Linked DNA regions of Homo sapiens. The protein of the gene in region 3 purifies or fractionates together with the protein of the main gene of each other region. This does not show direct contact. Each region holds a gene or a part of one and is shown on either strand. Other genes may lie near its edges.

Evidence for each region.
Region 1: the proteins of SH3PXD2A (region 3) and MAP3K21 purify together in Homo sapiens (affinity purification with mass spectrometry, with the first as the bait; one large-scale study listed by BioGRID). This does not show direct contact.
Region 2: the proteins of SH3PXD2A (region 3) and FAM53C purify together in Homo sapiens (affinity purification with mass spectrometry, with the first as the bait; one large-scale study listed by BioGRID). This does not show direct contact.
Region 4: the proteins of SH3PXD2A (region 3) and SYDE1 purify together in Homo sapiens (affinity purification with mass spectrometry, with the first as the bait; one large-scale study listed by BioGRID). This does not show direct contact.
Region 5: the proteins of SH3PXD2A (region 3) and TESK2 purify together in Homo sapiens (affinity purification with mass spectrometry, with the first as the bait; one large-scale study listed by BioGRID). This does not show direct contact.
Region 6: the proteins of SH3PXD2A (region 3) and MAST3 purify together in Homo sapiens (affinity purification with mass spectrometry, with the first as the bait; one large-scale study listed by BioGRID). This does not show direct contact.
Region 7: the proteins of SH3PXD2A (region 3) and KIF13B purify together in Homo sapiens (affinity purification with mass spectrometry, with the first as the bait; one large-scale study listed by BioGRID). This does not show direct contact.

What each region holds. Positions count from the first base shown.
Region 1 is NC_000001.11:233,379,391-233,383,335, reverse strand, and holds part of MAP3K21 (mitogen-activated protein kinase kinase kinase 21), read right to left. Parts: coding exon 3,626-3,945; intron 1,032-3,625; coding exon 625-1,031; 3' UTR 1-624. UniProt on the Homo sapiens protein: Negative regulator of TLR4 signaling. Does not activate JNK1/MAPK8 pathway, p38/MAPK14, nor ERK2/MAPK1 pathways.
Region 2 is NC_000005.10:138,340,769-138,345,251, reverse strand, and holds part of FAM53C (protein FAM53C), read right to left. Parts: intron 4,069-4,483; 5' UTR 4,036-4,068; coding exon of another isoform or gene 3,988-4,035; 5' UTR 3,917-3,987; coding exon 3,839-3,916; intron 3,444-3,838; coding exon 3,386-3,443; intron 428-3,385; coding exon 1-427.
Region 3 is NC_000010.11:103,603,527-103,608,009, forward strand, and holds part of SH3PXD2A (SH3 and PX domain-containing protein 2A), read right to left. Parts: intron 2,392-4,483; coding exon 2,272-2,391; intron 264-2,271; coding exon 1-263. UniProt on the Homo sapiens protein: Adapter protein involved in invadopodia and podosome formation, extracellular matrix degradation and invasiveness of some cancer cells. Binds matrix metalloproteinases (ADAMs), NADPH oxidases (NOXs) and phosphoinositides.
Region 4 is NC_000019.10:15,112,275-15,115,794, forward strand, and holds the end of SYDE1 (rho GTPase-activating protein SYDE1), read left to right. Parts: intron 1-71; coding exon 72-297; intron 298-1,285; coding exon 1,286-1,689; 3' UTR 1,690-2,700; downstream 2,701-3,520. Other genes in the region: HACL2 (2-hydroxyacyl-CoA lyase 2), read right to left, coding at 2,978-3,156, 3,292-3,397. UniProt on the Homo sapiens protein: GTPase activator for the Rho-type GTPases. As a GCM1 downstream effector, it is involved in placental development and positively regulates trophoblast cells migration.
Region 5 is NC_000001.11:45,342,797-45,346,170, forward strand, and holds the end of TESK2 (dual specificity testis-specific protein kinase 2), read right to left. Parts: intron 3,199-3,374; coding exon 3,081-3,198; intron 2,763-3,080; coding exon 2,044-2,762; 3' UTR 1,087-2,043; downstream 1-1,086. Other genes in the region: TOE1 (target of EGR1 protein 1), read left to right, coding at 47-206, 286-906. UniProt on the Homo sapiens protein: Dual specificity protein kinase activity catalyzing autophosphorylation and phosphorylation of exogenous substrates on both serine/threonine and tyrosine residues. Phosphorylates cofilin at 'Ser-3'. May play an important role in spermatogenesis.
Region 6 is NC_000019.10:18,124,669-18,129,151, forward strand, and holds part of MAST3 (microtubule-associated serine/threonine-protein kinase 3), read left to right. Parts: coding exon 1-106; intron 107-3,731; coding exon 3,732-3,790; intron 3,791-4,197; coding exon 4,198-4,283; intron 4,284-4,483.
Region 7 is NC_000008.11:29,252,523-29,257,005, reverse strand, and holds part of KIF13B (kinesin-like protein KIF13B), read left to right. Parts: intron 1-4,483. UniProt on the Homo sapiens protein: Involved in reorganization of the cortical cytoskeleton. Regulates axon formation by promoting the formation of extra axons. May be functionally important for the intracellular trafficking of MAGUKs and associated protein complexes.

The DNA.
Region 1 (3,945 bases), on a different chromosome or scaffold from region 3:
TTTAAGTGAGAACTGGACATATGCATTATCGGCCCACAGCCAAGGTTAGGTAGTTTAAACAGGACTTTATATCTATTCCAGTCGTCAGACTTTTAAGACCTTTACTTACTAATATCACATTATTCTTGCCAAGAAACTAAAGCTCTTTCTTGGCTTTTTGTTGCAAAAATGACAATTAAGAAAAGAAACTACAAGAAAAAAAAACAAGAAACAAGACAAGAAAAAGGAAAGAAAGGAAAAAAGAAAAAAAAGGAAGGAAAGAAACAAAAATAGTGAAGCTCATTACAATTTCTGTTGTGTGCAAATGGACAAAGGCATAAATGAGAACAAAAACATTAACATTGTGCTGAAGGTAATTCGACCCAGCATAGTTTTCATTGGTGCACATCTCTTGTTTTACACTTTTGTGTATTCCAAGTTATAAGAAAAGAATCCAGAGGAAAAACAATAGACATGGCTAACAGCAATCATATACATTTTTTGAGAAGCTGGATATATCTTACTAATTTAGGAACATGGCCACAGCTTTTGAAAACACAGCAGCATGAAACAGTTCAAAGGTAGATACATTGTGTTCATTTGTTCACCTTAAAAAAATGCTTAAACAACAGTAAGGCACTTAGTTTAAGACAGGAATTCTTTCTCCAGTTCATATATAGATGGCCGGCTGGTTTTGCTCCTCATTCTGCACAGTGGCACAGTGTAGTCCCTGCTCTGACCTTCCACGTCAGCATCCAGTAATGAAGGCACATGGGATTTAGTTCTCTCCTTGGCAGCGAGGAATTGGGTGGGATGTGGTCCTGGGCGACCCACTACACAGGCAGTCTGTGCCAGCTGAGACACTGCTGTCTGTGGGTAAGCCTGAGGCAGATCTGAGCGGCTTCTCAGGGAGGCAGGGCGACGCTGAGGCACGATGTGGACAGTGCTGTGCTTCTTGGGTGAGACCTCCCTTGGCAGATGACTGTGAGGAGCAGGTGAGGGGCAGAGTGGCAGTGCAGAGGCTCCAGTGGCTGAGATAATAGTTGCACCAGCTGGTTGAGAAAGCCAAAACAGTATGCAGTTAGAAAGAAAATGAGTTCTAAAACAATGAATATCAAGAAAAATAATTATGATGGCAATTCAACAAAGTGATAGCTTTAAAATGAGCTTCAACAAAAAACATGCATTCACAGGCATGATCATAGCACACTGCAGCCTCGAACTCTTGGCCTTAAGGACCAAGGAACTCTGCCTTAGCCTCTAGAGTAGCTGGGACCACAGGCATGTGCCACCACACCTGGCTGAAGTCCTGCAAGTTTGCAAAGAGTACTTCAACCTATGGAAATTATATTTGTAAACAGAGCTAAATAATCCTCACAGTGCTTAGGCCAATAAAAATTATGAGTCATTATAATGATATTATAACGGTAGCTTTCAAAATGGACTAGACTGGAATAAATTTAAGAGGTTTAAAAATGATGGTCAACATGATTAAACTTCACTGTAGATTATGATTTGACAAAACTGATGAAAATGGAAAAGCAGTTAGACTTTTACACGTCACCTCTTTTCTTGTTTGTACTGAAGAACTGAATAATGTTATTACCACTTTAGCAAATAATTATTGGCTTATAAGTTAGAGAAAAATATGCTTTCATATGGGATTACTGTGCTAGAATTTCTCCTTGTGCAATTATAAATTACCAATACTTATTGACCTACAGAAAGATAATAAACCAATTTATCTAAAGGCAATGAACAATAATATAGAAAATATCATATCCAGATATAATATTTAAAAAGAAGTAAAGGAAAAGATAAAAAGGATGAAAGCAGTTTGTCTTAATATAGCTTTATAACCAATGCTAGCATAGCATTTTACAATTTAGAAAGCATTTTTTGTATATATTACCTCACTTAATATTCATGACAGGTATATAAGGTTATTGCAATTATGTTCACATACAAAATAAATAATACTCAAGCTCTACAGAGCACTTAGTGTGCCATCTGACTTTTACCACGATCTCAATTGTACAGATTAGGTAAGTATAGTATTAGGTATGTATATTGTTACTGTCCCCATTTTATAGATGAAGAAACTGAGGCACAAAATGTTTAAGTGATTCGCCCAAATTCACTCAGCATATAAGCAGAGATATGAGCCCAGCTAGCTTCCATACTATTAACCATGACACTACAATGCTTTTTAAGACATTCAAACAAGAAAGCAGTCTACGTAATTTCCCCAGCATCACAAACTTACCAAATAGTACAACTAGAACTTGAACCTTTGTTCTATGACTCAAAATCCCCCATTCTTCCAAAGTACCCATATTATCTCCTCAAATGTCAGTATTTCAGTGCCACTTAACCCCAGAAATCTCAAAGCTGAGTACATTCTAGCACATGATAGCATGATCCAGTCACATCAATACTCACTGAATTTTAGGAATGGAAAAAATACCGCAGTGAGGAGGAGTGAGACACTGTGATACAGCAGAAGGATCCCGGGTTTAAATTCTGACACCACTACTTCCTAATTGTGTGACCTTGAATAACATTAATTTTCCGTAAGTTTGAATTCTCTTGCATATAATAGAGTTGCCATAAAAACTAAGAGACAATTTATGTCCAAGTGCTTTAACATCTATAAAGTGCTGTGGAAATACCACTGGTTGCCTTCTGCCCAAGCCCCTCTTGTTGAATAGACTAAAAAACTATTTAAAAATTTGATTTTCTTTTCTTTCAGAGATTCCACATCTGGACATAAACCTCATGGAACTGTCTGGTATAACATACATCAACAGGGTAATACTTGCTGTCATGGGGTGAACTGTGTCCCCACAAAATTCCTAAGCAGAAGCCCTAACCCTCTGTCCCTCAGATGTCACTGTATGTGGAATAGGGTCTGTACAGAGGTGATTAAGGTAAAATGAGGTCATTAGGGTGGGCCCTAATCCAATGTGACTGATGTCCTAAAAAGAGATTAGGACACAGATGATTAGGACACAGATGCACTCAGAGTGAAGACTGTGTGAGAACACAGGGAGAAAACGGCCGTCTAGAAGTCAAGGAGCCAGGCTGAGCTCAGAAGGAACCAACCCTTCAGACACCTTGATCTGACTTCCAGCCTCTGGAACTGCTGGACAATGAGTTTGTGCTGAACATCTCTCCATGCTGTGGCACTCTGTTATGGCAGCCCTAGCAGGCTGATCACCTGCTACACACAGTCCCAACAGAAACAGAACAATGACATGTACAGCAGTGGAGGAGACAAGGCCCGCAGGGAGGCGAGAGGCCAGTTTCAGTTCCAGCCCTCCCACTCATCCGTGGTTCTAACTGGGGCAGCTGGCTTGTCTTTCCCGTAACGTGAGGGGGCTGGGTGGTTATTCTCCATGTGTTCTTTCTGCTTTGATATGCTATTATAGGTTTCAGTTACTGAAATTCAATTACACTTTTCCCAGAATCCAAATCATAGTTAAAATCAAATAAGAGAAGGGTAAGGTTCAAAGATCTACATGAACAGTAAAAACAAATTATTAAATGTCATCACCAGGAAAAGATAAAATCATAAATCCATACTGTTTCACATACTAATCTCTACAGCAGTGTTTTATGCTTTTACCTAATTAATGCAACCTACTTGGGGTCGGATTTCCATCAGACATGGTCCGTCTGTGATGTGACGGTCTATGTTTTGAAGAAGCACAGTAAGGTACATTCCCACATGTCTGCTGTAGGAAGGAAGACGGCAAGTTTCTTGATACACTACAATCAGTGTCAAGTCTTGGCATGAGGGCTGGCTCACGACCACTTCCTGGGGCAGTGGGACAAAAATCCGGAGTGAGCATCTCAGAGTCACAAGTGACAGGTGCACTGTCCACCAGTGGATCTTCACTGTCCATCTGCAGCAGGCACTTTGTGGAGAAAGAAGGTGTGGAGAGGATGCCCAGGGCACTTGAC
Region 2 (4,483 bases), on a different chromosome or scaffold from region 3:
GGTCTGTGAGCTGGGGCACATTGAGAAGAGGCACTGGGAGCTTGGAGGAACCTGAGGCTGGAGACCCGCTTTGGGGGGCTCTGGTGAGGCACCTGCGGCCCACCCCCTCCACCACTGCCCCGGTGCTTTATGGGAGTCCACAGCTTGGAGGGGGCGGGCCGCCACACCGGCTGCCAGCGAGACAGGTCCACGGGCACTGAGAGTGAGCGGCAGTGCCTCTTGGATGGAGGGGCAGGGGGCACAGGAAGCTTCTCTGGATCTGGGGGCTCAGGTCTTAGGACTTGGGAGAAGGGCTGCTCCTTGGGGGAGTTTCCCCGACTGGGTGGTCTGAGGTGCAGGCTCAGGCCTGAGGGATGGTAGCTGAAGTTGAGGCTGTCCTGGAACTCAGCACAGGAACAGTGGGGCAGGCCCCTCCAGGAAGCACCTTCTGGAAGGCATTTATAATAAGAATAATATTAATGATAGCTTACATTTTTTAAGAACTTACCATTTGCCACATAATGTATGGAGCATTTTATGTGAAAATTTCCAAAAACCTTATGAGGTAGGTAGTATCGTTATCATTATCCCCATTTCACAGATAAGAGAAATTCAATAACTTTCCCAAAATCACATAGCACTCAAAAGACCAAAGGAGGATTCAAATCCAGGTCTGTCTGATGCGAAGGCTAGGTTTTTAAACCACTATGCTCTATTGCCTCCATTGTGACCAACTACCTGGAATCAAAAACATTTCATCTACTGCCTGCCACTCCCTCTCAAAGGTAAAAGAAGTCAAGAGAAACAAACACGTTTGTGAGTGTCCTGCTCATCTCTCCCTCGCCCCTCCCCCACGCTTGCCCTGGATGCTGAAAAGCAGGCCTATGCTCTTCTTTCTCGGCCTTTCCTCCTCTCATGTGTCAACAGCACCAAGTCAGGAGTTAGGACTGCCAAGAAGTAAGAGGTAATCAGGCAGGTAAGAGATCACTTTTATTCCTAGGGAGGGCAAACAGGGTGGGGAAGGCCTTTGACAGTGAAACCTGGGCTTGGGAAACCCTGACTTTGTGCTGCTCATCTTCGTTTCTGTCTGGCCACCCACATATTCCGATTCCCTTCCCCTAGGCCTTCTCTTAAATCCAAACAGATGGAGGGACCAAGAGAAGGAAGGGAAAATGGACTAAAAGAAACAATCCTCACTCACTGTATTCCAACCAAAATTGTGACTTTTGGGAGACGGCTCATTAAGGGACAAAGGGCCTAATCCAAACTCCTCTGGCTAGCTGGCTGGAATTCTGCAGGGGCTGGATATTTGGGGCAAACGACAAGTATACGAAGTCAGACTTGATGGTGGCAAAATTCATACTGAGTGTATTTGGTCTATAGTTCTTCCCTCTACTAACCACTATGAGGGCAGGGACCATGAGTTCCTGCTCTATACTTATGACACAATACCTGGCTTTCAGCAAGTCTTTAATAAACAGGAGGAAGAGACTGAATGAACATGTTTTTGCCAACTCACTTCCCTTGCTAGGTATCCCAGAAAAGAAAATGAGATGCAGAACTGCTGAGCAGCACGAGTTAGGGAGTTCTGATTGTCCACCAGTGATGCCTCCATCTAAATGTCCCTACGATCAGGGGCCCTTTAACTCAGTAATTAATAATCTACGAATTTATACCTCAGATATATTTTCACATGTGAAAAAATGACATATGTACAAGGTTATTCACTACAGTTTCTTTTTTCTTTCTTTTTTTTTTTTTTGAGATGGAATCTCGCTCTGTTGCCCAAGCTGGAGTGCAGTGGGTGCGATCTCGGCTCACTGCAACCTCCGCCTCCTGGATTCCAGGGATTCTCCTGCCTCAGCCTCCTGAGTAGCTGGGATTACAGGCGCCTGCCACCATGCCCAGCTAATTTTTGTATTTTTAATAGAGACGGGGTTTCACCATGCTGGCCAGGCTGGTCTCGAACTCCTGGCTTCATGCTATCTGCCCACCTCGGCCTCCCAAAGTGCTGGGATTACAGGCATGAGTCACCACGTCTGGCCCACTACAGTTTTATGTATCCAAACAAGATTAGAAATAACCTAAATGCACATCAATAGAAAACTCATTAAATAAGCCACTGTACATCTATGCAGTGTAATAATATGTAGCTATATATAACAAGGGAATGAATACTCAGCATTCTGATAGGGAAAGATCTCCTAGCTATATTAAAGTTTTTTTTGTTTTTTGTTTTTTTTTTTTTTGAGATGGAGTCTTGCTTTGTTGTGCAGGCTGGAGTGCAGTGGCATGATCTGGGCTCACCACAACCTCCACCTCCTGGGTTCAAGTGATTCTCCTGCCTTGCCCTCCCGAGTAGCTGGGATTACAGGTGTGTACCACCATGCCAGGCTAATTTTTGTATTTTTAGTAGAGACAGGGTTTCACTGTGTTGGCCAGGCTGGTCTCGAACTCCTGACCTCATGATCCGCCCACCTCGGCCTCCCAAAGTGCTAGGATTACAGGCATGAGCCACTGTGCCCAGCAATTTTTTTTTTTTTTTGAGACAGAGTTTTGCTCTTGTTGCCCAGGCTAGAGTGCAATGGCGCAATCTTGGCTCACCGCAACCTCTACCTCCTGGGTTCAAGTGATTCTCCTGCCTCAGCCTCCCGAGTAGCTGGGATTACAGGCATGCGCCACGACGCCTGGCTAATTTTATATTTTTAGTAGAGATGGGGTTTCTCCATGTTGGTCAGGCTGGTCTTGAACTCCCGACCTCAGGTGATCTGCCCACCTTGGCCTCCCAAAGTGCTGGGATTATAGGTGTGACCCACTAGGCCCGGTCCCATTTTTTTTTTTAAAGGTACAAAATAATATATAGTATGCAACCTTTTGTGTTAAAAACGTGGAAATAAAATAGATGCAGCTAACCACCATGGCACATGTACACCTATGTAACGAACCTGCACGTTCTGCACATGTATCCGAGAACTTAAAAAAGAAAGGAAATAAATATATACATTTGCTTCTTTTTATATAAAGAAATTCTAGTCACATATACTGTATAAGAAACTAATACTTTTAGGGAGGTGGTAGAAGCTGGGTAGATAGGGAACGGGAGAGTAAGAGAGACTTTTCTCAGCATAACCTTTTTGTTGTTATTTTTTAAATTTTGAACCATGTGAATGTATTACCTATTCAAAAAATTAGATTATACAAGTCCCCACAAAGCTAGAATAAGAGCAAACCAACCAGATAACTTTCATGCTAGAACATGAAAGACAACTGTCAATCTCAGAAGTTGACCCTGGCAAGAAGGTTCTAGAGGTAGGCTCGCTAGCCCTGGTCACTGGAAACCAATGATAGAAATGTGTGGAGAGAGGAATGGGTACACACACGTACACAAACACACACGATGCCTTACCAGACACAAGCTGGAAAGAGTTCCCACAGTTGGAGATGTCTGCATGATCAGGCAAAGGCTAAGAAAGAGAGAATATCCATCATGATTTGGATTCAGGACACACTGACAGATTTCTAGGAAGCCCTCTTCAGTTCTCCTCTGCGATTCATGAGCTACAGGGATGTTAGGGACATTAAGTGTTCTTCCTCTTGTCTTCCCAAAGTTAGTAAGTCAAACAATCCACATCTTCCAACATCTCAAACCCTTCTCCACCCAAGTTTTGCTGTCCCTTCTCTATCGGTGGAAAAATCCCTGCCCCCTTCCTTTTGGGCTGGGTTTTGAGCCATTAGTGGGCTCTTCCAGGTTAAGTACCATGATTCATACAGCACAGGACAAGAGTAAAGTAATAGCAACAATCAGCCTCAGAAAAAAGGGGGAGGGGGTCGTGGAGAAGCAGGAAGACTGGTCTTTTACCAGACTGATGCTGAAGCGTGTGCATTTCAGCTCATCCAGAGTCTGCTTCTGTAGCTGCTCAGTGATCAGGGTTATCATGATTCTCCCCAGGATTTGACTTGCACACTTTGGAGCAAATGATGGATGTCTTCCCTGTTGTTCTTCCAGACCTCACTTGTGAGCCGTCTTCTGCCACTGCAGCACCATTCTAGCACCATTGGGACTTCCCTCTCCAGTCATGCCTGCTGAGTCTGCCAATTAGAGGGACCAGCCCCAAGTGATATTAGAGATGCACCTGGTCCAGAGATGGAAAATGCATGGCACACATACCACAGCACCCCTAAGCCAGGCCTCTGGCAGACATCAATTGATCACAGCTCTTTCCAGCTAAGCCTAAACACAGCTTCAGAAATTATGAACTTGGCAGTCCAGATATGAAATAAAATAGAGTTGGCAATCAAGTTGAAACTTATTTGCTACCCTTAAACTGGTTCATGCTCTGTTGTTTCTAACTGGAATACCAGCACCACTTAGAAAACAGCTGCTCAAGTGAGAGAGAGGGATGCCCAAATGATTATTTCCATCAAGATCAGCCCAGTATTTTATCTTCCAGTCAGAAGTGAAAAGAGGTACCCTTCTCCTAAACTACAGAAATAGTAATAAGAG
Region 3 (4,483 bases):
CCGAATGCAGGGATGTCATACTCAGGCTCCTCATACTTGAGCTTCCGCGGGGAGTCCTGGCTCTCACTGGCCCCCGTAGGGCCCTCCTCGGCCTCCTTGGGCTTGCTGGGGGGTGCTGGCGGGGGCACCTTGGGCCGGGTCAGCGTGCTTGTGCGGCGGCTCAGGTTGGGCTTCTTGCGCTTATCGATGTATGATGCGGGGGCCCAGCCCTCCTTCTCACCGATCTGCACGTACCACCAGCCACCTGAGTTCTTATCAATGACCTGGGGTACGAGTGCAGACAAGCCAGTGAGTTGGGAGGATCTGGAACCCTATGACATCCCAAGGTAGGAGTATCATACTTTGGCTCTGGGATAAATTATCTCCATTTTACAGATAATAAACCGAGCCACTGAGTAAGTGGCCCAAAACCCAATATAGTAAATAATGCACCAGAATTCAAACCTAGGTCTCTATCATCTCATGGTTGGTGGGTTCCCACTTGCCAAGTTCCCTCCCTGATCCTCCATGTCTGTGTTAACAGCCGGGTTGAGCTGGCCCACTCTGCCTCCCCCTAAACTGCACTGTTCCCAGTCCCTACAATCCTGCCAGTAGACTAAGGACACGTATGAAGAAAACACTGCCCTTCTGCTGCCCCTTCCCTCCTCGTACCCTCGATGTTGCTAGGTCCTCCCTTTGAGTTCCTTGAAAGGGTCTCTAGGGTCAGAAGAGTATGGGAAGATGCAGATGAAGTGACCTGGGAGGTACAGGCCCGAGGCCAGAGCCTCTCTGCAGAGCCTTTCCCCAGGATCCACCCGCTGTGGTCATCTTACTGGAATCCCACTGAAATCCCACTAGCTGAAGAGATTTCTTTGGGTTGATTGGTTTCCTGTAGGAAGGGCAGGGGGCTTTCAGTCATTTCCATGTTAGTATAAACTGGTTTAAGGAGCTTCTTCCTTAACTTCTGGAGATCAACCAATGGCCAAAAGTGTGGCTGCTGGTTGTGCTGGGGTCCATTTGGACTGGGGAACATAAAGGGCAGATAACTGGGGATTGTGGGACACTCCTGGAGGAAAAGGTCCTGGGGTGGGGAAGGGGTAGCGTGAAAACACTGGCACTATGGGAAGAGGGCCAAGGAGGGAGGGAAAGGTGAAGAATGCAAAGGCAAGAAGAGACCAGTCCTCTGCATCCCCCACTAGAAGAGAAAGATTTTCTCCTTCTTTGGGTCCTACATTCTGTCCTTCACCCTGCCCCAGCCCTGTACCTACAGTTCAAGCACAGGTGGCTCCTGAGCCTGACAGTTCTGCCACATTATGCTCTTTACAGACTCTCCTGGAAACCTCAGTACAGAGAGAATGATTTTTCTTGGAAATTTAGTTGCAAGTTCCAGGCATGTGATTTAAAACATTCACATTGGGAATGTCACTGCTTTAGAGGCAGAGACTGCCCAATGAGTCTGACAGGTTCACTTGTATTAGATGGAGTTAACTCAATTACTACACAAAGCCACTCAGAGAATTGACTAAGTTACAGCTCTTCTCTGCTGCCGGGAATACCATGCTCAGCCCCAGCCACAAAATAGAGTGGCATGAATGCTGGAAGACATGCTGGGGGGTGGAGGGGCGTCCCAGGATCTATCACCCTGTTTTGCAGAGAGAAATGCTTAAAGTTGGGGGTGGCGGGTGAGAGAAGTGACTGCATCAAAGGCCAGGGGTCATGTGGTGTGGACTTGGCCAGAGCCCAGGTCCCCAGTATCTCAGTCTACCTGCCTGGTCCACATCCTCCTAACAACACTTCCTGATGTGGCTTCTGCAGGATCCTGGCCCTGAGATGTTCCTGGGAGAGAAAGCTTGTGGGGTTGGGCAATGCTGTCTATTCTAGACCCCTTGTAGGTGACACTCCCAGTGACATCCTTGTATCCTAGGCTCTGGGAAGCCCTGCAATTAAAACAACAAATGGGTTGGATTTTGTTTAATCCACTGTCCTGCAAGCTCATTTGACCAAAGAAGCCCTTTGTTTCAAGGCCCCCCTGTCACAAGCTCCTGCACATGCTCTGGGAAATGTTGTGAGACAAGCCCTGTGAGCTCAGGGTGGAGCGTGAGAGCTGGGATCTAGTTTAGGCCATGGCACTGGCCAGCGCCAGGCAGATGCTCATCTTTGTGGGGCTCATTTCTGTACCTTTCCTGCCTGCCTGCCCCTCAGGAATCTTACTAGCAAGGCCTAAAATGGGAAATGCAGTAGGTTTTCCACCACAATGAGTTAAAACCCTCGGCCTCATGGCCCAAGGCTTACCTCTGCCTTCTGTCCACCCCGAAAGCTGATGCCATCGGAAATGCACGACTGGAATTCGGCAATGGTGTAGTACTCCACCTCAACAGAAGGGGGCTCTGGTGGCTTTGGCAGTTGGAACCCCTAAGGTTAAGGAACACACAGTGGGCAAAACCCGCCTAAATCAGAAGAGTAACTTGGCCAAGGGTTGGTCCCCACTCAGTCCCCAGGGGGTGCGGATGGCCGTTTACACCAGCTGGACAGCAGCTGGCCTGAGTACGTATCTATCATGGGAGTCTCAGGGTATATATCGCCAGGGGACTACTCTGATGAGGCTTTCTAATAATACTCAGGACTCACGGAAGACTTGTCTGAGCTATCAAAATTCTCACATTACTATTACTATCATCATCATCATCATCATCATCATCATCATCATCATCATCATTACTCTGAGATAGGGTCTTGCTTTGGGACCCAGGCTAGAGTGCAGTGGAGTAATCAGAGCTCACTGCAGCCTCCATCTCCTGGGCTCAAGTGATCCTCCCACTTCAGCCTCCCCAGTAGCTGGGACTACAGGCACACACCACCACACCTGGTTAATTTTTTTTTTTTTTTTTGGTAGAGATGGGCTCTCTCAGGATCTGGAAGAATTTGCTAAAAAAAAAAAAAAAAAAAAAAAAAAAGCTCTCCCCCTCCCCCTCCCCTTCCCTCTCCCTCTCCCCACGGTCTCCCTCTCCCTCTCTTTCCACGGTCTCCCTCGGATGCCGAGCCGAAGCTGGACTGTACTGCTGCCATCTCTGCTCACTGCAACCTCCCTGCCTGATTCTCCTGCCTCAGCCTGCCGAGTGCCTGCGATTGCAGGCGCGCGCCGCCATGCCTGACTGGTTTTCGTGTTTTTTTGGTGGAGACGGGGTTTCGCTGTGTTGGCCGGGCTGGTCTCCAGCTCCTAACCGCGAGTGATCCGCCAGCCTCGGCCTCCCGAGGTGCCGGGATTGCAGACGGAGTCTCGTTCACTCAGTGCTCAATGGTGCCCAGGCTGGAGTGCAGCGGCGTGATCTCGGCTCCCTACAACCTCCACCTCCCAGCCGCCTGCCTTGGCCTCCCAAAGTGCGGAGAGTGCAGCCTCTGCCCGGCCGCCACCCCGTCTGGGAAGTGAGGAGCGTCTCTGCCTGGCCGCCCATCGTCTGGGATGTGAGGAGCCCCTCTGCCTGGCTGCTCAGTCTGGAAAGTGAGGAGCGTCTCTGCCCGGCCGCCATCCCATCTAGGAAGTGAGGAGCGCCTCTTCCCGGCCGCCATCCCATCTAGGAAGTGAGGAGCGTCTCTGCCCAGCCGCCCATCGTCTGAGATGTGGGGAGTGCCTCTGCCCTGCCGCCCCGTCTGGGATGTGAGGAGCGCCTCTCCCCGGCCGCGACCCCGTCTGGGAGGTGAGGAGCCTCTCTGCCCAGCCGCCCCGTCTGGGAAGTGAGGAGACTCTCCGCCTGGCAACCGCCCCGTCTGAGAAGTGAGGAGCCCCTCCGCCCGGCAGCCGCCCCGTCTGAGAAGTGAGGAGCCCCTCCGACCGGCAGCTGCCCCGTCTGGGAAGTGAGGAGCGTCTCCGCCCAGCAGCCACCCCGTCCGGGAGGGAGGTGGGGGTCAGCCCCCGCCAGGCCAGCCGCCCTGTCCGGGAGGTGAGGGGCGCCTCTGCCCAGCCGCCCCTACTGGGAGGTGAGGAGCCCCTCTGCCCGGCCAGCCGCCCCGTCCGGGAGGGAGGTGGGGGGGTCAGCCCCCTGCCCGGCCAGCCGCCCCGTCCGGGAGGTGAGGGGCGCCTCTGCCCGGCCGCCCCTACTGGGCAGTGAGGAGCCCCTCTGCCCGGCCACCACCCCGTCTGGGAGGTGTACCCAACAGCTCATTGAGAACGGGCCATGATGACAATGGCGGTTTTGTGGAATAGAAAGGGGGGAAAGGTGGGGAAAAGATTGAGAAATCGGATGGTTGCCGCGTCTGTGTAGAAAGAAGTAGACATGGGAGACTTTTCATTTTGTTCTGTACTAAGAAAAATTCTTCTGCCTTGGGATCCTGTTGATCTGTGACCTTACCCCCAACCCTGTGCTCTCTGAAACATGTGCTGTGTCCACTCAGGGTTAAATGGATTGAGGTCGGTGCAAGATGTGCTTTGTTAAACAGATGCTTGAAGGCAGCATGCTCGTTAAGAGTCATCACCACTCCCTAATCTCAAGTACCCAGGGACACAAAC
Region 4 (3,520 bases), on a different chromosome or scaffold from region 3:
TTAGTCTCTTGCAGGTAGGTGCCACAGGGGCCTGACTTTGTCTGACTTACATCCTCTCAACCCTCTCCCAGGCCACGCTGACGCTTCTCCTGGACCACCTGCGCCTCGTCTCCTCCTTCCATGCCTACAACCGCATGACCCCACAGAACTTGGCCGTGTGCTTCGGGCCTGTGCTGCTGCCGGCACGCCAGGCGCCCACAAGGCCTCGTGCCCGCAGCTCCGGCCCAGGCCTTGCCAGTGCAGTGGACTTCAAGCACCACATCGAGGTGCTGCACTACCTGCTGCAGTCTTGGCCAGGTGAGTTCATGCCCAGGGCCTGCACCACCAATCTGAGCCAGGCTGCTACAGTGATGCCACCTTAAGGGACCAATCAGTGTCTTAGGCTTGAAGCTACGCCCCCTCATGGAGTAAACTGGTACCTGGTTGCCTCAGCAACCAGTTCAGATCCAACCAATCTGTCTGTTTTGTCTTTTTTTATTTTCATTTTTTTGTAAAGACAGGGTTTCTCTATATTGCCCAAGCTGGTCTCAAACGCATGATCTCAAGCCATCCTTCCGCCTCAGCCTCCCAAAGTACTGGGATTATAAACCAAATCACCTTGCCCCACAGAGCTGATTCATCTTTTTATTTTTATTTTTTATTTTTTTTGAGATGGAGTCTTGCTCTCTAGCCCAGGCTGGGGTGTGGTGGCATGATCTCAGCTCACTGCAACCTCTGCCTCCCAGGTTCAAGGGATTCTCCCACCTCAGCCTCCCGAGTAGCTGGGATTATAGGCACGCACCACCAGTCCTGGCTAATTTTTATATTTTAAGTAGAGCAGGGTTTCACTGTGTTGGCCAGGCTGGTCTTGAACTCCTGACCTCAAGTGATCCACCCATTTCAGGCCTCTCAAAGTGCTGGGATTACAGGCATGCACTACCAATCCTAGCTAATTTTTGTATTTTTAGTGGAGATGGGGCTTCACGGTGTTGGCCAGGCTGGTCTTGAACTCCTGACCTCAAGTGATCCGCCTGCCTCAGGCCTCCCAAAGTGCTGGGATTACAGGCATGATCCAGGCATGATCCACAGACCTGCCCCTACCCATCTTTGATGCAGTCAGAGGCCCTGCCTCTTGACATGCCAATCAGAGGCCTAGTTGCGTAAGCAACCAGTCCTAGCTCTGCCAGTGAAAACCTGAAAGGGTCGAAGGCCGCTTTCCACAGGCCAATCAGGAGCCTAGTTCCCTAAGCAGCCAATCAGAGGTCGGCTGTCGCCTCTTTCTATGACCTACCCTGTCTCCCTTCAGATCCCCGCCTGCCCCGACAATCTCCAGATGTCGCGCCTTACTTGCGACCCAAACGACAGCCACCTCTGCACCTGCCGCTGGCAGACCCCGAAGTGGTGACTCGGCCCCGCGGTCGAGGAGGCCCCGAAAGCCCCCCGAGCAACCGCTACGCCGGCGACTGGAGCGTTTGCGGGCGGGACTTCCTGCCCTGTGGGCGGGATTTCCTGTCCGGGCCAGACTACGACCACGTGACGGGCAGTGACAGCGAGGACGAGGACGAGGAGGTCGGCGAGCCGAGGGTCACCGGTGACTTCGAAGACGACTTCGATGCGCCCTTCAACCCGCACCTGAATCTCAAAGACTTCGACGCCCTCATCCTGGATCTGGAGAGAGAGCTCTCCAAGCAAATCAACGTGTGCCTCTGAGCCAGATGACGGGGTGGGACCCCGGTTAGTAAGGACCGGGCGCCCAGTGGCTAAGGCGGTGCCCTGGTGACCAAGGAGAGCCAGACCTGTTGCTCAGGCCGAGCTCCTGGTTGCCAGCGAGTTACCACGGGACCAGTCGCGTGTATGGCTGAGACTCATTCCCAGTTTCCAGGGCCCGGTATTTGGACACTAGTTGCCAAGTCTGGGGCCTGGGGATTTTAGGGACCAGCGGTTGTGACCATCTTTCCTGAGCACCAAGGGCTTCCCCTTTTGTTGCCAAAAAGGTAGTTCTCGCGCTTGCTAGGCTGGCCTCTCTTGCCTCCCCTTGGCCGGGGCAACACCAGTTACTGTGAGCATCACCCTGGTGTGGTGAGTCACCTCTAGTCGGCCCTCTTGCTGCTGCCAACCAAATCAGTATTAGCTTTGAGCACTGCACTGTTTCTCCCTCCCTTGGACGACACAAAGACTAGCATGAGGCACTGTTTGTGGGGGGCAGCCCCTATCCTGGGTTCCAGCATGGACACAGGGGTAGCCTGGGGCTTATAGAGAAACAGCTGGTTTCCCCTACCCTTTTCCGGGGAAGTCCCCACGATTGGCCTCTAGTCAGCAAATGGAGATAACAGAGTCTGGCCTTTCCAATCCCCATCTCCTTGCCCCCCCCTTGCCCCCCCCCCCGAAAAAAATTGAGCACTTAAACCCCTCCCTTTTGGAGGGGGCCCCCTGAAGCGTCAGGCTGGGGGCAGTCTGGTACGGAACATATTTATTGCCTCCATGCATGTGTGTGTGTGTCTGTGAGGACTGGTGTGCGTGGACACGTCTGAAGCAGGCGTGTGGGGCTCTTTCAGGGACCACAGAGGAGGGAGCAGTTTGCAGTGCCCAGCCACCCTGAAATCCCCAATAATGGTGCCTCAGTGGGCCCCAGAGTTCCAGTGGGAGAGTACGGTTCCCTCCTGTCTCCCTCTTCTTTTCCGCACCTCCATCTTTGTGGATAATAAATAAATATGCACAGGTTCTGAGACTGAGTACTTGGGCCTACATGGGCCAGAGGTGGTTTATTCAGTCTCCATAAGAGAGGGGACAAACGGCACAGTTGGGTCCGTGAAGAGGAGGGTCCAAGAGCTCACAAGAGAGCCTCTCTGAGATTTGACCCCTCCATCCCCTCCTCAGGGAGGTTGTGGAGTCACTGGGCCTCATGGGATAGGCCCAGGGCAAGCAATGATGAGACTCCAAACCAGCTGGACACAGTCCAGGGGCAGGAAGGCAGCCAAGCGTCCTGACCCACAAGGCCCTATACAGCAATGGAGCCATCGCGGAAGTCCGTCCTCCCAATGAGGATGTTGACCACAACCGGGTGGCCGTCTCGGCACTGCTGCTGGGCATCGTGCAGCACCTTGACCACCTGATCCTCGTTCTCCCGTGAGAGCAGCAAGCCCCGGGCCCCCAGACCCATGGCTGCCTTGTGATAATCTAAAAGAAGAGATTAAGTCGGATAGTGGCAAGGACTCAGCCCACCGCACATGCAGCCAGCCCAGGAGAGGAACACAAGCCCAGCTGGGACTGAAACAGCCTCCTGTCCTCCCAACCTCGCTGAGGCCCCCTCACCAGTGTAGGCCAGGCCACAGGCCACGTTGCTGCCCAGAGAGGGCACCTGCTCCCGAGAAATCTGTGTCCAGCCAGCATCATTCCCTACCAAGGCCATCACTGGGATCTACAGGAAGATGATGAAGGCAGGCCGCAGCCTTCAGCCCCATGGCTTGGCCAGCCAGAGGACAGAGACAGGGATAGGGCCTCTGCCAGAGAGGAGGCTCCCTCCCCACCTCAGCCCACCCCT
Region 5 (3,374 bases), on a different chromosome or scaffold from region 3:
TGGAGCTTATATGCTAGTGGACCATTACCCTCTTGCGCTGTTGCAGTGAACGGGAAAATGGGAAGCAGCGGGCAGCTGGCAGCCCACACCTTACCCTGGAGTTCTGCAACTATCCTTCCAGCATGAGGGACCATATTGATTACCGCTGCTGCCTGCCCCCAGCAACCCACCGTCCTCATCCCACCAGCATCTGTGACAACTTCTCGGTGAGAGCACCCACCTGTTTCTTGGGAGGGAAGGTTCTGATGCCTGGAGCCTCTTTCTAAGCCTCTTTCCCACCCCTAGGCTTATGGCTGGTGCCCCCTGGGACCACAGTGTCCTCAGTCTCACGATATTGACCTTATCATTGACACTGATGAGGCTGCGGCAGAGGACAAGCGGCGACGGCGACGACGTAGGGAAAAACGGAAGAGGGCTTTATTGAACCTACCGGGGACACAGACCTCTGGGGAAGCTAAGGATGGTCCTCCCAAGAAGCAGGTCTGTGGGGATAGCATCAAGCCTGAAGAAACCGAGCAGGAGGTGGCTGCCGATGAAACTAGGAACCTGCCTCACTCCAAGCAAGGCAACAAAAATGACTTAGAGATGGGGATTAAGGCAGCAAGGCCTGAAATAGCTGATAGAGCTACCTCAGAAGTGCCAGGGAGCCAAGCCAGTCCTAACCCAGTGCCTGGGGATGGATTGCACCGGGCTGGTTTTGATGCCTTTATGACAGGTTATGTGATGGCCTATGTGGAAGTGAGCCAGGGACCGCAGCCCTGCAGCTCTGGACCCTGGCTCCCTGAATGCCACAATAAGGTATATTTGAGTGGCAAAGCTGTACCCCTCACAGTGGCCAAGAGCCAGTTCTCTCGTTCCTCCAAAGCCCACAATCAGAAGATGAAGCTCACTTGGGGCAGTAGCTGATGCAACTTCCACCTTGCTCTCAGGTGGAACAGAGGTATTTTGGGTCTCTCTAGCCTGAAATGTCATCCTCAACTGCTACTGAGTTTAGGGGAGGGGGAATGTCTTGACAGACATCACTGCATTGCCCTGGACCGCCTCCTTTATCCCAGTGTTTGAGGTACAAGTAAGAAGGCTGACCAGCACCTGTAACACTGACTTTATTTTTAAGTCTGAAAATGTCTTGGGAAAGTTTTACAAAAAAAAAAATCAACAGAAGCAAGTTATGAAAATATTTGACCAGCTTCATCTTTGGTTATTTCTTATTGCAGCTCTGTAAGGACAGACTGTTCCCAAAGCTCCAGCCATGGCAGGAAGGGAAGCAAATCAGTCCCTGTATAAACCATTTAACCAATTGAATGTATCACATGTTGATAAATACATAGAAGCAGGCCCTAGGGCCTACAAAACCAGCCCCACTCCCAACCACAAGGTTGAAAGTCTTATGGGGCAGAACATTAAGACTCCTTTATAAATATGAAAATAGATTAATCAACAGGAAAAGGTCTTTGAATAGGTTAGCTAAGAGCCATGACCACCACGCTGCCTTGCTGTCCCCTTGCATAGAAATGTAGTGACGTGGTCTGACCATGCAGTAAGTGCAAACAGCAATTACTCAAATGTCTTAGAATACTGGCAAGAAGCACCCCAATATTCAGGTCTGGGAAACAGCCATGACCATTACGGCCTCTTGATCAGCTCCATGTTCCACTCAGTAGCTTATATGCCCCAAGAAAAGGCAAGAGACAGACCTGGGGTGGGGAAAGAACCGGGGTAATAGCTGCCTGCCAGCTCAGCCTAGAACTAGACATCCTCTGGTCCTATCTGGGGAAGTACACTGGAGAGGGTCTGGTGGGAGGCAGACCTCCTTGCTGGATTTCAGAGGCTTGGTATCAGCTGTTGGCCCTAACTAGGAAGGCCTCTCACTGCTGCCTCCCGTCATACACAGCCAATGGGCACTGGGAGCCCAGAAGTTGAGCCTGGCTTGGCCTAGCCTGCCTGCTCTGTAGGCTCCAGGGAAGAATCAAGGCTGTGCACCTAGGGGGCCATATGGTTTCAGCTGAAGGTCCATCCCCAAGGTGAGGCAGGGACTAAACCCCCTCACCCATCCTGCTTTCCCTGGGTTTGCAGGCCTATGCCTGAGGTGGAGAAGGTGGCTGGAGTTGAGCCTGCTGGCCTTTCTTCTACCTCCATCTCCTCAGAAGCACCCGCAGGGCATGGACTGGTCCCCTGGGGCCTGGACCCAAAACCATTTTCTTCCTGGAGAATGGAGCAGTCCATAGCCTCATGGGCTTGAGCAGCTGGTAGGGCAGATGCCCGGAATGGTGGGATCTCTTTAACTCTGTACTTGAGACTACTTAGGCGTGGTGGGGGCCCATCAGATAGCGATTCTTCCCGGCCCACAAATGGACAAGCCTCTTGATGCAAGAACTCAGGCGAACCAGGCAAGGAACGCCACCGGCGAATAGGTGGGGCCAGGGGCTCCTGCCAGTCAGCCAGGGGCATAGTTCCGGGCCCTGGTGCATCCAGGTCAAATACCAGAGAGATGACAGACTTGCTGGGCAGGTCAAAAAACTTGATCTTGCCCCCCATGAGGTCCTGGCGAGCACTAAAAGGGTTGACTTTGGGGGTGCGGGCAGCACCATCTCGTGGCCGGTAGTATGGGTCCAAGACACTCACTGTACGTGGGGGCTTACGGGAAAAGATATCTGACTGGCTTCGAGACAGCCAGATGGTACGTCTTGGGCATGGTGACTTGTGGGGGATCTTGTCATCCAGTGAGCTTAGTCGCTTCACCCCAGGTGCTTTCTCCAAGAGTCCTGAAGAATAATCAAGTCTGGGTTACTCTCACTAGTCATAACAAATACAAGCAGCATTTTACCACAGAATGTTTTCACTCATGAAAGCAAAGCTGATACCATGGCCCTGTTTTACCAATGAAGAAACAGACTCAGAGAGGGGAAGCAGTATGCCAAGCCACAGCTCTTAAAAAGGCCAGTACTTTCTGCATCATCTCCTTCCCCTCCCATTTGTTTCTGGACCTGGGATCCTGGCAATCACAACCCTAAGAGGAGAAGGCCCCACATCCGAATTTCCTCCCTTAGGGTTAGGTTGGGCTCCCTGGTCTAATCTCTTACCCCTGGCTGTGGGCTGCAGCTTCCTATCCCTCTCCTGCTCTTCTTCCTGTAGGCGGCTCAGAATTTCCTCCAGGGTCTTCCCAATCTCCACAAAAGATGGGCGCAGTTTGGGATCCATCTGTAGGTATCCACAACAGCCATGAGCTCTGCCCTCCATCTCCCACCCCAAAGATGGCATTTGAGTCTATTTCTGGCATCTTTGAAGATTCAGATGTGCAGCTGAGAGACCTTTTCTAAAGGCCCCAGACAATGAAGGTGATCCCTACAGTTCAGGTCAGGGAAAACACTACTGTC
Region 6 (4,483 bases), on a different chromosome or scaffold from region 3:
CTGCTGGAGGCGGCTGAGGGCCATGCGCGGGAGGGCCAAGGCATTAAGACTGACCTTCCACAGTACATCATTGGGCAGCTGGGCCTGGCCAAGGACCCCCTGGAGGGTAAGCCGGGATGGGAAGAGGAAACCAAGGCTGGGAAAGGCCGGATGGAGGCCAGGCACGGTGGCTCACACCTTTAATACCAGCACTTTGGGAAGCTAAGGCGGGCAGATCACTTGAGGCCAGGAGTTCGAGACCAGCCTGGCCAACATGGTGGAAACCCCCCCCCTACTAAAAATACAAAAATTAGCTAAGTGTGGTGGCGCATGCCTGTAATCCCAGCTACTCAGGAGGCTGAGGCACAAGAATTGCTTGAACTCAGGAGATGGAGGTTGCAGTGAGCTGAGATCGCGCCACTGCACTCCAACCTGGGCGACAGAGCGAGACCCTGTCTCAAAAAAACAAAAAAAGAAAGGGCAGATGAAGCCAGGATTCAAACCCAGGCCCATCCGATTCCAGAACCACCGCACTGTTCTTTGTCTCTCTGTGGCCTTGCTCTTAGGTCACCTGTGGGAATTATGCTGAGACCCTCTGATCTTTTGGGGCCCAGGGGCCTCAGTGTCCTCAAATGCCACGTTAAGATGGTCAGGAAGCCTGGGGACCAGTGTTAGCAGTGGCCTTCCCTTTGTCCTGCAAATTCACAAATGACTTTACCAATTTCTGTGGCCTTTACTGTGGCCCAGAAAGTGAACTTGGAGTCAAACAGGACAACCCGTAGGTAAGAAGACGGTCAAAAACTCCCACAGCCGGCCGGGTGCGGTGGCTCACGCCTGTAATCCCAGCACTTTTGGGAGGCCGAGGTGGGTGGATCACAAGGTCAGGAGTTCAAGACCAGCCAGGACAACATGGTGAAACCCCATCTCTACTAAAGATACAAAAATTAGCCGGGTGTGGTGGCGTGTGCCTGTAATCCCAGCTACTCGGGAGGCTGAGGCAGGAGAATCATTTGAACCCTGGAGGCGGAGGTTGCAGTGAGCCGAGATCACACCACTTCATTCCAGCCTGGGCAACAGGGCAAGACTCTGTCTCAAAAAAAAAAACAAACAACTCCCACAGCCAGCCAGGTGCAGTGGCTCACGCCTGTAATCCCATAATCCCAGCACTTTGTGAGACTGAGGCGGGTGGATCACTTGAGGTCAGGAATTCAAGACTAGCCTGGCCAATATGCAGAAACTCCATCTCTACTAAAAACAAATATTAGCCGGGTGTGGTGGCATGTGCCTGTAGATCCCAGCTACTTGGGAGGCTGAGGCAGGAGAATCGCTTGAACTCAGGAGGCAGAGGTTGCAGTGAGCCGAGATCACGCCACTGTGCTCTAGCCTGGGTGAAAGAGTGAGCCTACATTTCAAAAAAAAAAAGATGTAGCTGGGTGTAGTAGTGCGCGCCTGTAGTCCCAGCTACTCAGGAGGCTAAGGTGGGAAGATCGCTTGAGCTTGGCAGGTTGAGACTGCAGTGAGCTATGATCACACCACTGTCCTCCAGCCTGGGTGACAAAGCCAGACCCTGTCTCAAAAAGAGAAAAAAAAAAATTTCCACAAATAGCCAGGATAAGAGGAACTGAAAGCTGGAGCATTGAACTTGGACCTAGCCTGGTCCAGCAGTAGCCAGGGGGAGGCTCTGGGAGGAGGCAGTGTTCAAACTGAGGCCTGGAGGGCAGGAGGTGACCAGGTTGCAGATCCAAAGGAAAGAGTGAAACAGGCAGCATAGGCATAGACCCTAAGGTTGGACCATACCTGGAGTGGGACTGACCTGCCACTGTCCCCATTGAAAGCTGGGGAGGCCCGGCATGGTAGCTCACACTTGTAATCCCAGCACTGTGGGAGGCCAAGGCAGGAGGATCACTTGAAGCCAGGAGTTTGAGACCAGCTTGGGCAACATACTGAGATCTCGTCTCTATTAAAAAAACAATTAGCCAGGCATGATCGCACATGCCTATAGTCCTAGCTACTTGCGGGGCTGAAGTGGGAAGACTGCTTGAGCCCAGGGGTTTGAGGCTGCAGTGAGCTATGGTCGCACAACTGCACTCCAGCCTGGGTGACATAGCAAGACCCCATCTCTACAAAAAGTAATTTTTTTTTTTCTTTTTTGAGACAGAGTCTCGCTCTCTCGCCCAGGCTGGAGTGCAGTGGCACGATCTTGGCTCACTGCAAGCTCCGCCTCCTGGGTTCACGCCATTCTCCTGCCTCAGCCTCCCGAGTAGCTGGGACTACAGGCGCCCGCCACCACGCCCGGCTAATTTTTTGTATTTTTAGTAGAGGCGGGGTTTCACTGTGTTAGCCAGGATGGTCTCGATCTCCTGACCTCATGATCCGCCCGCCTCTGCCTCCCAAAGTGCTGGGATTACAGGCGTGAGCCACCGCGCCTGGCCTACAAAAAGTATTTTTAAAAATTAGCCAGGCGTGGCGGTGAATGCCTGTAGTCCCACCTACTTGAGAGGCTGAGGTGGGAGGATTGCTTGAGTTTAGGAGACTGAAGCTGCAGTGAGCCATGATGGCACCACTGCACTCCAGCCTGGGTGACAGAGCAAGAGCCTGTCTCTGAAATAATCATACTTGGCCGGGTGCGGTGGCTCACGCCTGTAATCCCAGCACTTTGGGAGGCCAAGGCGGGCAGATCACCTGAGGTCAGGAGTTTGAGACGAGCCTGGCCAACATGGTGAAACCCTGTCTCTACTAAAAATACAAAAATTAGGCTGGGCGTAGTGGCTTATACCTGTAATCCCAGCACTTTGGGAGGCCGAGGCAGGCGGATTACCTGAGGTCAGGAGTTCAAGACCAGCCTGGCCAATGTGGTGAAACCCCATCTCTACTAAAAATACAAAAGTTAGCCAGGTGTGGTGGCAGGCGCCTGTAATCCCAGCCACTCGGGAGGCTGAGGCAGGAGAATCTCTTCAACTCAGGTGGTGGAGGTTGCAGTGAGCCAAGATCTCGCCACTGCACTCCAGCCTGGGCGACAGAGTGAGACTGCGTCTCAAAAAATAAAAATACAAATACAAAAATTAGCTGGGCATGGTGGCACACGCCTGTAATCCCGTCTACTTGGGAGGCTGAGACAGGAGAAGCACTTGAACCCAAGAGGTGGAGGTTGCAGTGAGCTGAGATCACACCACTGCACTCCAGCCTGGGTGACAGAGCGAGACTCCATGTCAAATAAATAAATTAAATAATCATACTAATAAAAAATAAAGCTGAGGAAACTGAGGCTCCAGGCAGATAAGGCTGAGCAGGGAATCAAACCCAGGTGTACCTAAGGCCAGATCACATGTGGTCTGTGGCTGGACCATGTTTGCCAGGCATTCGCTAGGGGCTGCCCCTCTGCCAAGGCCTGGGGCAAGAACATATTGGACCCTCCACCTGGGCTGCACCCTGAGCTGAGGAAGATGTTAGGAGCTGACACCCAGGGGGCCTGTGTCTCATCCCGTCTTCACAGGCTCAAGGCTCAGAGCCTAAGTTTGATCATGACTGAGCACTTCAGAGCCAGGGCAGCCCACTGGCCCTTCTAGAAGGTTCCTAAGTCATTGCTTCATCCAGCCTCCCGGATGTGGCTTCATGACAGTGTCATGAGAGCTGGTCAGGGGAGGCACTGCATCCCCAGCCTGGGGTGAGAACTCTAGAGGCCTCAGGAAATTGCTGGGTGATGCAGGGTGAGGCAGGGAGGCTCCAGCTGAGCCTCCTCCCTCATCTTGCAGAGATGGTGCCACTGAGTCACCTCGAAGAAGAACAGCCCCCAGCACCTGAGTCCCCAGAGGTGAGTAGCAGAGGCTGGGGGACCCCCGCTCATCTTGTTCTTTCCAGAGTGGACCAGGCACCCGCAGAAAGGGCTGGGTTTGCCGAGGTCTTGCATGTAGCTTAATTAGCATCGGTGACTTTGGAGGCAAGGTGACGGCACGTGGGACTGCCCTGCCTTGGAAGTCGGGTGGGGGCAGTGCTGGAGGGGCACTGGACAGGTGAGTTTTGCAGGACGTGTAAGAATTTCCCAGGAGGAGGGCACAGCTGTGAGCAAAAAAGTACAGAAAGTCAGAAGCTGAGTTGGAGAAGTTTGGACAGGGGAGGAGGTAGCATCGGGCACCAGGACCAGTGGTTTGGGCTTGGGGGCAGGAGAAGCCTTCCCAGCTCTGCAGCGGGGCAGGACCCTAAGCCCTTCCCATCCCCTAGAGCCGCGCCCTGGTCGGCCAGTCACGGAGGAAGCCATGCGAAAGCGACTTTGAGACCATCAAACTCATTAGCAACGGAGCCTATGGGTGAGTCCCTGAGTCCTGCATAGACCCATTTCACAGATGCCTGAGGGGATGGTTGAGGCCCAGGCAGCTCCTGCATCCCCCTCCTACCCCAGCAGGGCTCACACATTCATCCTTGAATGGGCAGAGAAGGCACCTGAGGACTGGAGGGGGAAGTGGAGACACGCCATAGCGAGGTTACAGCCTCATGTGTGCTCTGTCCA
Region 7 (4,483 bases), on a different chromosome or scaffold from region 3:
AGGTGGGTGGATCACTTGAGGCCAGGAGTTTGAGACCAGACTGGCCAACATGGTGAAACCCTGTCTCTACTAAAAATACAGAAACTAGCTGGGTGTGGTGGTGAGTGCCTGTAATCCCAGCTACTCAGGAGGCTGAGGTGGGATAATCGCTTCAACCTGGAAGGCGGAGGTTGCAGTGAGCTGAAATCGCACCACTGCACTCTAGCCTGGGCGACAGAGCGAGACTGTCTCAAAACAAACAAACAAACAAACAAAAAAAGTAGTAATTGTAGCATTTCTATGTAGCAGAACCTCAGAGAGGTTAATTAACATTCCCAGAATTACAAAACCCACCTGTGCTTTTACTACAATGTTGGACATGATTATCTTTAAGAGGATCTTGCTATCCTGAGATGACACCATTTTCAAAGATGTGCAGGATAAACTGGAAGCATAAGTCTTGATCTTCCATCAAAGGAGCTCCCAGTCTTGTTGATAATAAGATGCACATGTGAGTTCATTGGAAGAATATATGTACCTAGTGCACTGATGGCAGCCAATCATGAATTAAAGAAATGGGGGTGGAATTTGAGAACAGCACAGAAGACAGCACAAGCAGGCCCCTTGGCTCCAAGTTCCACCGGGGTGACGTGGAGGAATCCAGATGGGTGCTGCACATACAGTGGGTTTGTGTCGGCATCTGAGGATCACTGAACTTGGGGAATCCGCTGCAAAGTCTCTGATTTAGATGACTAGGTGAATGCTGGTGTCATTAACTGAATCAGAAGCACAGGAGAAGCAGGTTTTAGGGTGGAGGTGTGGGAAATGATGAGTTCTAGTCTCAGTCAACAGTGTGTCGTCAGTGCTTATGTGCTGTGTACCCTGCCTGCAACTATGAATAAGATGCAGTGTGTGCCTGGAAGCAACTCAGCACAATTGAGTTTTAGGTGTCTGAAGTGCAGCCAGGTGGATGGATCCAGAAGGCCATTGTGAATATGAGTCTGAAACGAAGGGACTGGACGTAGGTGTAGATTTCGGAGTCATTACTGTAGGTAGAAGATAGAGCACCTCAGGTGTGTCTGTGACAGAGGCGGTCACAGAGGCCAAGAAGAGCAACCTCAGGAGAATCAGGTGAAAGCAATGTTGTGGATGCCTAGGGAGGAAAAATGTGTCAAAAGAGTGAAAGGTGAAAGCAATCACATGTCACAGGAATGGCCGCGTGATTAACACAGAATTGTGTTCAGTGGATTTGGCATTATGATGGTCAGTGTTCATTTTCAGGATAATTTCACTGAAACGAATTAATTGGTATTGGGCATTGGCAGTGGGCTGAGGAGTGAGTGGGCGTGCCAGTATGGAGGCAGCGAGTCTCAAGAACATTCCTCTGAGAAACTCCAGGTAGAAGGGGAGGGTTCAGAGTGGTACCTGGAGGGGTAGGTACCTTTTTTTAAAAAAAAAAGTTTTGGGGAGATATTTGAACCTTGTATAGATAGAGCCAATAGATAGAAGTTTTTGAAATATGGGAGGAAGAGAATAATTATATAATGGGAAAGCCCAGGAATTTCAAGCTTAATTTTCTTGATGGGGTAGAATGTGAGGTTATTGAAAGTAGGAGGAATTGGGTGAGCTGGGGTCTTCTGAGTAGTGAATGTGTAGGAATGTGGTTGAAGGACCCTAACTGTATTTTCTATCTATTGAGGGTACTGGGGTCATCCATTCCGAGTTTTTTCTTCTTGGTTTTTAGATATAAGTCACATCCCCAAAGTGTACCATTCACTGGGTTTTAGTTTACTCACAGACTTGTGCAGCCATTATTAGTATACAATTCCAGAACATTTTCATCACCCCACAGAGGAACCTTGTAACTGTTAGCAGTCAGTCTCCATTTCCCACTTCCCAGCCCCTGGCAACCACTAATCTACTTCCTGACTCTATGGATTTGCTTATTCTGGACATTTAATACATGGAATCCTATATTATGTGGACTTTTGTATCTCACTTCTTTCACTTGGTATAATGTATTCAGGGCTCATCCATGTTTTGTCATGAATCAATACTTCATTCTTTTTATAGCTGAACAACATTCTGTTACACAGATATGCTGTGTTTTGTATTCATTCATCAATTGATGGGCATTTGGCTTGTTTCCAATTTTTGGCTATTATGAATGATGCTCCTTTGAACATTTATGTACAGGCTTTTGTGTAGACATGTGTTTTCATTTTTCTCAGATACGCATATGTATAGGAGTGGAATTTCTGAGTCATATAGTAACTAACTTTTGAGGAACTGTTTTCCAAAGCATATGAACCATTTTACATTCCCATAGAAATGCATGAAGGTTCCACTTTCTCCACATCCTCACCAACACTTGTTCTTGTCTCTCTCCATGAGTATTGCTATCCTAGTGGGTATGAGGTGGTATCTGATTGTGGTTTAGATTTGCCTTTCTCTGGTAGATAATGTTGAGCGTCTTTTCATGTGCATATTGGCCGTTTGTATAGCTTGAGAGAGATCTCTATTCACATCTTCCCCTTATTTCAAAAACTATATCTTTTTATTACTGAGTTGTAAGACTTCTTCATACATTCTGTATACCATTCTGTTATCAAATAGATGATTTGCAAATATTTTGATTTTATGGGTTTCTTTTTCACTCCCTTGTGTCCTTTGATGCATGAAAGTTTTAAATTTTGATGAAGTCCAGTTTATTTTTAGTTGCTTGTGATTTTGCTGTGATTTCTGAGAAACCATTATCTAACATCATGTGGATTTTCATTTGTTTTCTTCTAAGAGTTTGATAGGTTTAGCTCTTACATTTAGATCTTTGATCCAGTTGGAGTTTTGAATGTGGTATGAGGTAGGGATCCAACTTCATTCTTTGGCATGTGGATATCCAGTTGTTCTAGAACCATTTGATGAAAAGACTGTTCTTTCTCCATTAGATTGTCTTGGTACCCTTGTCAAAATCAATTGACCATAACTGTGACAGTATGTTTCTGGACTCCCAATTCCATTCCATCAATGTATATATGTCTTTCCTTATGTAAGTACCACACTGTCTTGATTACTCTACCTTTGTATTAAGTTTCGAAACTGGGAGTCAAGTCCTCTGACTTTGTTTTTCTTTTTCAAGATTGTTTTGGCTATTCTAGTTCTGCCTTAAGCGGGTTTTTTTTTTTTTTTTTTTTTTTTTTTGAGACAGTCTCACTCTTCTCACCCAGGCTGGAGTGTAATGTCGTAATCTTGGCTCACTGCAGCCTCTGCCTCCCAGATTCAAGCAGTTCTCCTTTCTCAGCCTCCTGAGTTTCTGGGATTACAGGTGCCTGCCACCCTGCCTGGCTAATTTTTGTATTTTTGGTAGAGATAGGGTTTCACCATGTTGGCCAGGTGCCTTATGAGTTTTTTAAATACCTGTTTCTTAGTCTTCTGAGGTTGATTGGTTTCTTTTTTAAACTGTTTATTTGTTTAGAGATGGAGTCTCATTCTGTTGCCCAGGCTGAAGTGCAGTGGTGTGATCATAGCTCACTATGACCTTGACCTCCTGGGCTCAAGATGTCTTCCCACCTCAGCCTCCCAAAGTGCTAGGATTACAGGCATGAGCCACTGCACCCAGCTGATTCATTTCTTGAGTATGAACATTTTATGTTTTTGGTCACATAGGATTATTTTATTTGTTTTCAGATATGGGGTCTTGCTCTGTTGCCCAGGCTGGAGTGTAGTAGCACAATCATAGCTCATCACAGCCTGTAACTCATGGGCTCAAATGATCCTTCCATCTCAGCCTCCTGAGAAGCTGGGCTACAGGTGCATGCCACTACACCTGGCTAATTATTTTTTTTAAATTTGTTTTAGGGACAGGTTCTTGCTGTGTTGCTCAGGCTAGTCTTGAACTCCTGGCCTCAAGTGATCCCCCTGCTTCAGACTCCCAAGTAGCTGGGGGATTATTTTAATTATTTTCACACTATCACATCTCCTCTCCTAACCTGGCATCTCATTCTTGTGTTAGCCATGTTAGAGCTCAGTTGTATTTTAATCTTTTATTTATTTAATACATTTTCATGTTTACTAGTAACAATATAAAAGTAGTGATTAGGTTATTTTATATATCTCTTTTTAGAAAATAAAGACCAATTTGCTTTTTACTTATATGGTATCACATAATTTTTTTTCTCCCAGGGTCAGCAGATCTCAATAAAAAAGGGGGTCCCAAGTAACTTATAAATAGAACAAAGTAGTATAGGTAGTGTTTCCTGCTATGCCATTAAATATTATATTCCAATTGGGAAAACAAGTCCTTCCTACATAAATATCATTGATGAATATTTTATGTATGAACATGTGTAGACATGGAAAAGTATTGGGTATGTGACACTAATTGGTTGAAAATAGGATCACATGTGGCATGCAAAGTTTGCGGTTGAATAAGTAAATCTTACAAATAGCTTATTATCTATCTTTAAAAAATGAACCCAAATGAATTTAAGAGTAAATTATAGTTAGA